Homo sapiens: one gene and its partner. The protein of the gene in region 1 interacts with the protein of each later gene in a pairwise test. Each region holds a gene or a part of one and is shown on either strand. Other genes may lie near its edges.

Evidence for each region.
Region 2: the proteins of CRYBA1 (region 1) and CELF6 interact in binary tests that used the Homo sapiens proteins (3 or more experiments, as listed by UniProt).

The regions. Positions count from the first base shown.
Region 1 is NC_000017.11:29,249,590-29,255,012, forward strand, and holds the end of CRYBA1 (beta-crystallin A3), read left to right. Parts: intron 1-592; coding exon 593-711; intron 712-2,474; coding exon 2,475-2,616; intron 2,617-4,050; coding exon 4,051-4,193; intron 4,194-4,612; coding exon 4,613-4,760; 3' UTR 4,761-4,905; downstream 4,906-5,423. UniProt on the Homo sapiens protein: Crystallins are the dominant structural components of the vertebrate eye lens.
Region 2 is NC_000015.10:72,302,905-72,310,191, reverse strand, and holds part of CELF6 (CUGBP Elav-like family member 6), read left to right. Parts: intron 1-3,847; exon of another isoform or gene 3,848-4,051; intron 4,052-5,397; coding exon 5,398-5,446; intron 5,447-7,287. UniProt on the Homo sapiens protein: RNA-binding protein implicated in the regulation of pre-mRNA alternative splicing. Mediates exon inclusion and/or exclusion in pre-mRNA that are subject to tissue-specific and developmentally regulated alternative splicing.

The DNA of each region.
Region 1 (5,423 bases):
TTAACCATTGGCCGAAGTGGCTGATCCTCAGGCCTCTCACTGGCCTCTCTCCAACACTCCCCACTCTCCTCATTGGGTCAACTCTGAGGCCAGCTCACAGCTTTGCGAGTGGTCCTCTGGCCAGGTCCACGAGCCAGGTTTTAGTTCAATGTACAAAAAGGGTTGACCATAACTCTCCTTTACACTCTAGGTTTCTATAGGGGGTATGGCTGGAGAAGCTAAGAATCTATAAGGAGCTCCTGGGACTCCCAGAATCCTGGCCTCTGGGCCATGCTTATGAAGGAACTGTGGTGGAATGGGAGCCCATAAGTCCTTGGCCTGTCCATTGGTCTAGATATTATCCCTGGCAGACCATTTCTATCATAAACCAATCCTCCCTCCACCTCATCCCTACTCTGGGCAAATGAACACCAACCAGTGGCATTAATTCAAACCCCTTCCTGCCCTGTCTACACTGGAAGAGACCTCATCAGGCATCCCAGGCTACAGCTGGTAACAGAAAGCACAGAGTCAGACTGAAGTTAAGCTGTTGACCTGGACCTCTGTTTTTCCTGATGTTCTAGCTCTCTTGCGCCATTCAATCTCATTTCAGATAACCATCTATGATCAGGAGAACTTTCAGGGCAAGAGGATGGAGTTCACCAGCTCCTGTCCAAATGTCTCTGAGCGCAGTTTTGATAATGTCCGGTCCCTGAAGGTGGAAAGTGGCGCGTGAGTATGGACTTCCGCAGAACCGCAGCCCCTTATTTCAGGTCCCTTCAGACAGGGGACCATAGAGTGGGGATAGGGGAAGAAGGATGTTCCCCTAGGCTCTAGTCATTTCTCGGAGACAGGCCTCGAAAGAAATCACTACATGCATAATTTAGTAAGCCAAAGCTAGAAGGAAGGAACATGAGGTTCTTAGTGGCTTGGTACTAGATTTCAGGGGCTGGATAAAGAAATACATACAATGGGGTGGGACAGTGGCAGTAATCAAAATTTTGCTTCTGGAGCTCACAGGCTGCTACCTAGGGTGCCCTCAGAACAGCCACAAGACCCTTGAGTTTTTCTTGCCTGCAGAAAATTGGTAGAGAAGAAAGTGTCAAGTGGCTGCCTCTTCATGGCTAACTCTCCTCCTGCATATCCCAGAGCAGACACTGTTAGCTAATTTCTTTATGAAAAAAAAAACCTTAACCCCACGACTCCAGAGACATATTAGCTCCTGATTCATCTTTCAGGCAGTTTCTTGTTGATGGTTAATCTTGGTGAGGGAGACCCTCTCATTTTTGTCCTCTGACTCTTGGCAGAGTAGTTGAGGCCTTTATCATTAGCCTGAAAATACCTAAGGAAAAGACTCACCCTTGACTAGGCAGAATTGGCCTTGCATGTGGATAGGCTTCCACAAGTTGCTTGCCACCAAAATTAAGCTCTTCAGTCCTTTAAAAGATGTAACACTTTAAGGTGTCATCACTAACTGAGACCCAGTTGTGAAAAACTGAGCTGAGTGTTTCAAGTTTTAAGTACAGGTATGGGGCACTAGGAGAAAGAACTCGCAAGTCACAGGAAGAAAAAAGACTAGTAATCCATCAGTTGCTTGTTCATCCCTGTGCTTTCTTAAGAAGAAGCCAACAGGTTTGGCTTGAGCCAAAGCAATAGTCCAGGGGTGTCTAATCTTTTTGGCTTCCCTAGGCCACACTGAAAGAATTGTCTTGGGCCACATATAAAATACCATAACGATAGCTGATGACCTAACAACAACAAAAACAACTCATAATGTTTTGAGGAAGTTTACAAATTTGTGTTGGGCTGCGTTCAAAGCTGTCCTGAGCTGCATGCAGCCCTTGGGCAACAGGTTGGACAAGCTTGCAACAGTCACTAGATCCTGAAACAGGTAGAGAATAGGTGATTTGGAGAAAAAGAAAAAAAAATTTTTTTTTTTTTTGAGGCAAGGTGTCACTCTGTTGCCCAGGCTGGAGTGCAGTGGCACAATCATGGCTCACTGCAGCCTCCACCTCCAAGGCTCAACCCTCAGCCCCCTGAATAGCTGGGACTGCCAGTAGTGGGTCACCACGCCTGGCTAATTTTTGAGTTTTGTAGACGGGGTTTCGCCATGTTTCCCAGGCTGGTCTCCAACTCATGGGCTCAAGCGATCTGCTTGCCTTGGCCTCCTGAAGCGTTGGAACTACAGGCGTGAGACACCACACCCAGCCAGGAAATATAATTTTAGATTGGCTTTGCTAATACACTTCACTCAGACCAGTGAAGTAGATAGACCTTTTCAGTGATAACCCCCAAACAAATATTACATTCACTAACCTGCTTAGTATACCTGTCAACTCATTCCTCAACTCTTGTGACAAATTACTTTGTACAGCTCTACTGGGATTGGCTTGATATTTTACCCCACTATTGACTTATCTAAAACGAAAGATGCCTTCTCCCCAAGGCCATATAGGCTTTGAACACCATGAACAAACACTACATGTCTTTGGCAGCTGGATTGGTTATGAGCATACCAGCTTCTGTGGGCAACAGTTTATCCTGGAGAGAGGAGAATACCCTCGCTGGGATGCCTGGAGTGGGAGTAATGCCTACCACATTGAGCGTCTCATGTCCTTCCGCCCCATCTGTTCAGCTGTGAGTCTCTGAAATTTCCACTTCCGTGCATATGAGGGATGGGACAAGAGGGTGTGGACAGACTGACGTTCATGCTATTTATCATCAGTTATGCTGAATGTGGCAGGAAAAAAGACAAAAGTAAAAAAAGAGAAAACATCACTTTCTTCTCTAAGCCTGCTATTTGATTTTTCTCCACCAGGTGGTACTTCCCTTAAGCTAAAACTAAGGGTCTTACAAGTGGCAATAAGTGGATACTCAAGAGCCCAGTAAACTTGTGAAACACTAGTAAATGAGTGAAAGTGCTTACCCTGCAGCAAAAAGTAAATCCTTGGCCAGTTAAATTTCAATCTGTGTAACATTTTTACTGCAGAAACAGGAAAATGCTGAAGTAACCTTTCAGTAAGTGGGAATGACTGACGAAATAGGCAAGTCTTCCAGTATCGATCTACACTGATTGATAATAATCTTCTTGTTCTGAACACTTAAGTATTACTCAATAATGCATCAGGCTGGGATGTTTCTGGTCTTTGGAAACAGTTCAAGCAGAAAGCAGAATGACCTTAAGGGGTGTGTTGAAAATGATCCCTGTATTAGGAGTTAGGTTGGGCTAGAACCTTTCCAAATATTCAGTCTATGTGAGAGTTTCTCGTGATTTTGGTTAATAATCTCATCTTGGTTCAAAGTCTTGCCAAAATTCAACTGGTGGAGAAGTTAACCTAAATAGTTCTAATCCAAATAAATAGTTGCCTGTCTGGAAATTATTTCAATCTCACTTTTAAAAACATTTCATTTGCCCACCCTAAGGTATAACTGACATACAGTAAAATGCACAGACCCTAAGTGAATATTCTCATGAGTTTTTGAAAAATATATAGATCCATGTAACCAACACCCTAACCATATAAAGAACATTCCATCATAGTTCCCTGGTGTCCCTTTCCACTCAATTGCTCCCCTACCACTTTCTATTACCAAACAGTTTTGTCCATTTTTGAAGTTCATACAGGTTAGTCTCTGTCTTTTTAATGCTTGTGTAGTATTCATGTCCCCTACTGGACATACAGGTTATATCCAACAACACACATACACACGCAAGCGCACACATACATATTTGGGCTTACTTTTTGTAATAATCTGTGAGATCTTTTTTCACATTAGTGAATATTAATCCCTTGGTTGGCTGCATTTTGTTAGTACTTTTTCTCACTGTCAAATCCTCTTCATTGTTCCAAAATAGTATATCAGTTATTTGTACATTCAAAATGTTATGGTATTTAAATTGGAATAAACAAAATTATGGGTAACTTTTTTCTCACAAATCTGTTGCCTTAATCTTTTTAAATTATCATGTGCTTCCTTGTATAATCCAAAAGTGTTTCAATTTTGAAAAACATGAAGAATGATAGCCATAGCACTAGTACTAAACATTTTAAAACAATTTCTGAATTACAGAATCATAAGGAGTCTAAGATGACCATCTTTGAGAAGGAAAACTTTATTGGACGCCAGTGGGAGATCTCTGACGACTACCCCTCCTTGCAAGCCATGGGCTGGTTCAACAACGAAGTCGGCTCCATGAAGATACAAAGTGGGGCGTAAGTACAAAAACAGGGTTGGAATATACTTCAAAGTAACTCCTGAGGTTGCATCAATAGTTATGTTTTAATCAGATTTCATACGTATCGGTATAGATGTCACATTCTAGTTCTACATAATTTTGAATCTCAATTTCTTTATACCAACTACCACTTTAGGTTGCAGATTTATCTCCCCCAGACATGCCTCTATGGAAGAATTTACGTTGACTACTTATACCTGTTTTGATGATTAAGGCTAATTAACTAGCTATAGCCATATTATGCTTACAAATAGTGCCTGACACATTTAGGATGGCTATTTTTTCTAAGCCTAAAAGCATCTCATACCATTGTGTTGAGTAAAGAGGCTCAGGTTTTGGGGTATTAACCAGATTCCTAATTAGTTTTAATAATGAAATGTACTTTGAATTTCCTAGCTGGGTTTGCTACCAATATCCTGGATATCGTGGGTATCAGTATATCTTGGAATGTGACCATCATGGAGGAGACTATAAACATTGGAGAGAGTGGGGCTCTCATGCCCAGACTTCGCAGATCCAATCGATTCGCCGAATCCAACAGTAGCTGATTAAAAGCTCCAAGTACGATAATTCCTCAAGCATGAGACCTTGCTAAGCACTCTAGAATAAGTTTTATGTTCTGCTCACAGACATTGCTTTCAAATGTTAGCTGCTGAAATCCACAATAAACGTCATTTAAAAAAAAAAAACTTTGTAGACTGAATTAACTACCATGCTTCACATAAATCACACCTAAGTGGATGAGAATTTTTTTTTTTTTTTTAGTTATTTTGCTCTTGTTGCTCAGGCTGGAGTGTAATGGCGCTATCTTGGTTCACCACAACCTTCGCCTCCCGGGTTCAAGTGATTCTCTGCCTCAGCCTCCCGAGTAGCTGGGATTACAGGCATGCACCACCACACCTGGCTAATTTTGTATTTTTAGTAGAGACGGGGTTTCTCCATGTTGGTCAGGCTGGTCTCGAACTCCCGACCTTAGGTGATCTGCCCGCCTCGGCCTCCCGAAGTGCGGGATTACCGGCGTGAGCCACCACGCCCGGCCTGTGGATGAGAATTTTTGTTGTTGTTGAGACAGGGTCTCACTGTCACCCAGGCTGAAGTGCAGTGGTGCGATCTGGCTTACTGCAGCGTCATTCTCCTGGGCTCAAGTGATCCTGCCTCAGCCTCCTGAGTAGTTGGGACTACAGGTGCCTGCCACTATGCCTGGCTA
Region 2 (7,287 bases), on another chromosome or scaffold:
CTCTTCCCATGGAATGGGGAGTGCTGAGGGTGTGAGTGCTCAGTGAAAAGAATAGTTGGCATCAGGGCAGAAGAATCTGAAAAGGGCAATGCTGAGCCCAAAGGGAGGAATTTTAGACAAATCAGGGCAGAGAGTTAGGTAGGGTTTTGCTCTCCCTTCTGCTCACTGGGGCAGAAGGTCCAGGGCCCTGTGCGTGTCTGTGCGGCCTCTGACCTTTCCCACTCCATTGCCTGGAATAGGTTGTTCTCTCTGACATTCTATCCCTTGAATTCCCCTCCAGGGCTGGGCTCTGAAGCAGACATGGGCCTGGACTCCACCTGGGAAATTCTTAAGGGAACAGGTGCTCAGCCAGGGCAAGAGCTCACCTGAAGTCCCAGGACAAGTTTTTGGCCTGGGAGGCAATGTCCTCTTTTCCTCAAGGGGGACTCCTGATTACGTCCTGATTATCCCACTGCCATGTCCCTCCTCTGCCCATGGCAGGAACAAGATATATATAATAGGTTGCCCAGGAAGCTCATGGGGGCAGCTCTCTTTCTCCTCCAGCCACACATAACATGCCTAAATCCCAGGTGTCCTCCATCACCACTGCTCTGTGGGGACTGAAGGCTCAGAGCCCTGCTCTCCCCAACTCTGTTCTTACTCTCTTGGGTTCCTCCCCTGGGGACTTCCTTGTACCCCCAAACTCCCAAACTCCCACCTTCCCCAACTCCCAAGCGATGAACCTGAGGCTCAGCCAATATGCCCTCCTCTTCCCGGGTCCACATATCCAATAGAACTATAGCCCAGTTAATTCTTCCTACACATCTGTTAAATCTGTTCATTTCTTTCTATCCAGGTCACATTCACCTCTCACCTGTGCCACTGATCTTCTTGCCTCTAATCACTCCTTTTCCAATCCTTTCTCCACATAGTGACAGCTTATGGGATCCTTCATAAGACAAAACTGACTAGATGATTCCTCTACTTAAAACCCTTTCCTGTCTGGGCATAGCGGCTCACACCTGTAATCCCAGCACTTTGAAAGGATGAAGTCCAAGGATCGCTTGAGCCCAGAAGTTTGAGACCATCCTGGGCAACATAGTGAGACCCAGTCTCTACAAAAAATTTAAAAATTAGCTGGGCATGGTGGCATGTACCTGTATTCCTAGCTATTTGAGAGGCTGAAGTAGAATAATCGCTTAGCCCAAGATTTGGAGTTTGCAGTGAGCTATGATGGCGCCACTGTACTCCAGCCTGGGTAGCAGAGTAAGACCACAGGTCAGGAGTTTGAGACCAGTCTGGCCAACATGGTGAAACCGTCTCTACTAAAAATACAAAAATTAGCTGGGCATGGTGGTGGGTGTCTGTAATCCCAGCTACTCAGGAGGCAGAGGCAGGAGAATTGCTTGAACCTGGGAGGCGGAGATTGCAGTGAGCTGAGATCGCGCCACTGCACTCCAACCTGGGTGATAGAGTGAGACTCAGTCTCCAAAATAAATAAATAAATAAAAATGTTTAAAAAAAAACATTTAAAAATCCTTCCCTCCCCTGGATCCTCATTGCCTTTGAAATACAACAAAGTCAAAAGTCAAAATTCCTTGATGCGGTTTTCACAGCCTTCCCTAATCTGGCCCTTGCCTACCTTTCAGTTTCATATCCTTAACAACAATAACAACAACAAAAACCGGCCAGGTGCGGTGGCTCACACCTGTAATCCCAGCACTTTGGGAGGCCGAGGCAGGCAGATCACCTGAGGTCGGGAGTTCAAGACCAACCTGACCAACATGGAGAAACCCCGTCTTTACTAAAAATACAAAATTAGCCGGGCATGGTGGCGCATGCCTGTAATCCCAGCTACTCGGGAGGCTGAGGCAGGAGACTTGCTTGAATTGGGAGGCAGAGGTTTCGGTGAGGCGAGATTACGCCATTGCACTCCAGCCTGGGCAACAAGAGCAAAACTCTGACTCAAAAAACAAACAAACAAAAAAAAACAATAACTTTTTATATCTGAGGTATCTACTAAGATCTAGCAGTTGTCATTTTCATCACAACGCTGCAAGTTAAGATCATGATTCCCTCTTCACTAGTGTGGATATTGAGGCTCAGAGACCTTAGAGAAGCAAGTGGTAGAGCCAGGATTGAAATCCACATCTATCTGCTAGGAAGCAATTTGCTCTACCATGGCTACTCCCATGCCAAGTGCTCACTAGAAACTTTGCTCCTTCAGGCTTGCAGCTCCCTGTCCGTACCCTAGCCATTGCAGCTCCCTGTCCGTACCCTAGCCATTCAGCGTGCTCAGCCACCACTCCTACCTCTCCTATTATCTCTACATGGCCAATGACCCCAGTCCTGCAAGGCTCAGGTCAAACATTGCCTCTTCTATGCAGCTTTCCTCAGTCAACCTCTTCAGCTGGAGTCTGCCTCTTCCACAGCTCTTGACCTTGCACTCCCCCGAGGCCCTGGTCCCTCTGTGCCTCACTATTTGTGTTCATGCCTTAAGAATGGATTTGAGCAGCACTCCAGTGCAAAAATCATGGGCTTCAGCCTCAGACAGATCTGGGGGTAAATCCCAGCTCAACCACTTACCCACCATGGGATCTTAGACAAGTGATTTCACCTCCCTCAGCCTCAGCTTTCTCATCTATGATATGGGGACACTTGTATTCCCTTGAAGAGTGGTTGGAAGGATTTAGAGACAATGTATGTAAAGTGTCCCAGGAAGGGCCTGGCACAGAGTGGGCTCTCAGGAAATGGTAACATTATCTTCCCCTCTGCGAGCCTATGAAGAGAGGATCCCCATACAGATCATCACTGTCTCCCACGAAAGGCTGCCTGGGGCTCATCACAGAGTTCAGGAAATGCTGGCAGCATGCCTGGGTGGTGGGAGGCCTAGGTCAGGTCCAGGGGGGAACATGTATGTACCACCCGATGCCCACTCTCTGTTGAAGGGTGGGGAAGTGGGTGGGAGGAGAGAAGGTGGCGTCCCCCAGAGCACCATCTCCCAGGAAACCCAGCCAGGGAGGCAGCTGCCATGGAAACTGCTGCTGTCACGTGTGCTCGTCACTCTAGGCTCCAGAGAGAAATTCTCAGGATCTATTTAAGAACTAATAAAATAATGATGGTCTTGCTCACCCTCACTGCCCCCCACCCCAGGCTTCTACTCTTTTGGCCTTCTTCCCTACCAGGCTCCTCCCTGCCTCTCCTGCACCCGCTTCCTTACCCTTCCTCTCCTCATTTCCTTCCCCTCTCCACCAGTAACTCTCTTTCCTTGCCCCTTTCTAGAACTGTCTTTCTCTCACATCATTTCTGTCTGCCAGTGTTTCTTCATCTCTCCCTGTGTCTCTGCTCTCCATGGCTCTGTCTCTTGGTCTTTCCTCCACAATCACAGGTGGCCATGCCCAGGGACGGGTCCTGTCCTCCTGGTCCCTGGTCCAGGCCAGTCCAGACCTGTCAAGCTCGCCCTGATCTGCTTGGATTGATCTGTCATCCCCTCTAGACTGCAACCTGAGTCCTGTTGGTGTCTCCGCCCCCACCCACAGCCTGGTACACTGCAGGTGCTCCACCACCAGCGGGTGGGTGTGTCAGAGCCCTGGGTGGGAGGGGAGTTGCGCTGGTTCAGACTTGGCCTGTTCTCTTTTCCTTTTTTTTTTTTTTTTTTAGTAAGCCCTCCCTGCCCCTCCCACCCCCAAATTTGATCCAAAGGAAATTGCTCAACTGTGACTGCCAGGGCGTTACCATGGTTACTGGGTAGCACTTGTGGCTATGGTAACAGGAAGCTGCCTGTTGTCTCGGCAACGAGCAAATTGGTAAGGGATGGAGTGGCCCCTGATTGGTGCAGAAGCAGAGCATTTCCTGAGGGGAGGGGGTCAGATCATCACCTTCTCAGGCCAGATGGGCATCAGTACCCCTTCCTCCATGAACGGGAAGGCCGCTGTTTTTCCCTCCTGGCACTCAGCTGCCTGCCCCCCAACAATAATTCCTCACCTCCCACGCACCCAGCTCTTGGCAGTTTACAAAGACCTTTTGCGTCCCCATTACCTCATGTGATCCCCACAACACCCATGAGAGGAAGGTGAGATGGGGATTCAATCATGAATTCACTCAGGGTGGTTGGGGGATGGGGATGTGGGGGCGATATATTGAAATCACCTAGGAGCGTTTTCAAATTATGCAATACCCCAACTTAAGAGCCTCATCTGGTTCCTGGGTGATTTTTATCTACACTTCCTCAGGAACCCCTGAATTAAAAGATGAAGTTGGTGGGAGCGGGGAAGGGATGGAAGGAGAAGTCAAGCTGCTTTCCAGGCTTATAGCTTGGGTGACTGGGAGGATCAGGTTGGGGCAAAAAAAAAAAAAAACAAATGAGCTCTCGTTTGGGTGTGTTGAGTGAAGGCGCCCGTGGGACTTTCTAGTGGGGATGTCCAGCAGGCAGCTGGTAACATGGCTCTGAAGCTCAGAGGAGAATGCAGGCTGGAGACACAGAGCTCTAAGTCATCCCTGTGTGGAGAGGAGCTGAGGCTGAGTGTGGATGAGACTATCCAAGAAAAGTAGGAAGAGCCAGACAAAAAGGGCTGAGAACGGCACCTTGGAAAACTCCAGCATCCTCAGGGAAGGGGACCCTAGGGAGGGGATGGAGCAGGTGAGCGTGGAGACTCTAGTGATACAGCAGCTTGGGAAATGTTTTCCTCATTTGAAAAATTGAATCTGGCCGGGCGCAGTGGCTCACGCCTGTAATCCCAGCACTTTGGGAGGCTGAGGCGGGTGAATCATTTGAGGTCAGGAGTTCAAGAATAACTTAGCCAACATGGAGAAACCCTGTCTCTACTAAAAATACAAAAATCAGCCGGGCCTGGTGGCACGTGCCTGTAATTTCAGCTACACAGGAGAAAAAGAAAAATTGAATCTGAGAAAAGGTGGCTTACTTAAAGTCATACAACCATTAAATGACTAGAGTTGAGGGCAGATAGCACTGAGTCTGATTCCCAGACTCTCATCTAAATGACACATAGCGTGATATTCTCCATTTTAGACATAAAACACAAATCTGCAGTATCAATTCTACCCTCCTTCCCAATCCTCTCATGCAAAGCCTTTAAGTAAGTCCAGAAGCCAAAGGGACAGGCCTCACATAGCCCCTGCCCAGAGCCCCAGGCAGAAAAGTCTCTTTAGCCGCTTCATTCCACCTTGTGCTTGCCACTAAGTTCCTGTCACCCATCCCTGCCAGTTTCAGCACCTTCTAAATTCCTGGGTTTAAGGAAGGAATCTTGGAGAAAATCTGTAATCCCAGTTTGGAAGTGGTAGAGTGCAGAGTTCAAAGGGGCTAGGGCTCAGATCCTGAGGAGTCCAGGGTTCGAGAAGCTGGGGGCTCCAGGACCAGGCAGTCACGCTGAATGGGTGTGTTGGTCCGATGTCTTTCAGATGAATCGTCCGATCCAAGTGAAGCCAGCTGCCAGTGAGGGCCGAGGAGGTAACTTCCCTGTCTGACCAACCTCAGGCTGCAACCCGTGTAAGGGAGGGTGGGCCCACACCTGGAGTCTGTCCTACCCATTTAGTATGAGAGCCTCCCTGGGTCAAGGGGACAGGTGGGGCTCAGAGTTGCTGAGCCCCAGAAATAGCTCAGCCTTCCCTGCTCAGACTGAGCAGGGCTGGGGTTCTGGGGAGCCCAGGCCCAGAAGAGGCAAGAAGGGCCTAAACAGATGCCAGTGATAGAGAAAGGGGGTTCTTGCCACTTACCCTTGGAGAGAGATCATTCCTGTTTTGCCACATGGAACTTTCAGGGTTTCGTTGTTGTTGTTGTTTTTAAGAATCAGGTGGGGGTTATTCTCCTTCTCCATATCCTTCTGATATCAGAAAACACAGTCCGTTTCGGATTGAGGCCATTCCTTCATTGTAATTGCCTAGCTGCTCATGGTAAAAGATAAGGCTGGTACGACAGACTTTATGGGCCATAGTAAGTCCTCTATGCTGAGGACCATGGAAAGCTCTGATAGCTACACTGTTTCCTGGTAGAGAAAAAACAGAGCTCCTTAAGAACAGGAGGTGGGCTGAGCACGGTGGCTCATACCTATAATCCCAGCACTTTGGGAGGCTGAGGTGGGTGGATCATTTGAGGCCAAGAGTTCGAGACCAGCCTGGGCAACATGGTGAAACCTCGTCTCTACTACAAATAGATAAATTAGCCGGGTGTGGTAGTGGATGCCTGTAATCCCAGCTACTCGGAGGCTGAGGCAGGGAGGCTGAGGCAGGAGAATCGCTTAAACCTGGGAGGCGGAGGTTGTAGTGAGCCGAGATCACGCCATTGCACTCCAGCCTGGGCAACAGAGCATGACTCTGTATCAAAACAAAAACAAAAACAAAAACAAAACCACATAGGACGGTTAGAGAGCCTGTGCTTTCTTCTAACCAGCTGGGTTCTGGCCAGCTTCCAAGCTGTAAAGGCAAGGCTGGATTCTGGTGTCAGTTCTTGGTGTTTTTCTCACCCTTGCATCTTAGATCCTTCCAGTGTATCAGCCTATAGCCCTCCCTGATGTCTGCTGACTCTTTATCTTGGGTAAGACTCTCTTCCTGTCTAACCCAAGATCAGCCATGGCTTTGCTAGCTGAAAGAAGCTGCCCGAGTTCAGGAACAGAATGGAACCCAATTGATATAAACATGTATTGAGTCCTACTAATTCTGTACCCCTCTCAGACTTCATGCTCAGTCTGAGAACCCACACACAGAGTTCTGGTGACTTTGTGGTTCCACTGTGAAGTTCGTTCCTCCAAGAAATACTTCCATTATCCTTTTAGATTCTCTGACCTCTGGTCTCTGATTCTTGATTTCTGGTCAAAATGTTATCACCTTCACCTTGTCTTGGAGAGATATTTCCAAGTTTCCTCCTCCATCCACACACACATTCTCCTTTCCCTTTTTATTCTTTCCAGTCAGGTTTTTGAGATGTTCCAGGCTGCATGCAAAACTTCATGTTCATGTAACCCAAGAATTTCTGCCTCTTGGGAAACTCTTTTATGCATCAAGGCCATTGTTGGCCAACTACTAAGCCCTGCCCACAACCATGAGCCAGTCCCACAGCTGAGAAGCCAACTAAGAGTATGTGAGTGAGCTGTGAAGCAGACAGGTTCAACCACACAACCAACATCTTCTGAGCAACTTACTCCACAGCAGGAATACAGATGTGAGCAAAGCAGACCTGGTACCTGGCCTCATGAAGCACGGATGCTATGAGAGGATATGGACAAGTAAACAAGGGAACACAATTCAGTGTGATCACTGCTTTCAAGGGGAAGTCCAGGGGAATTGTGGGGACAC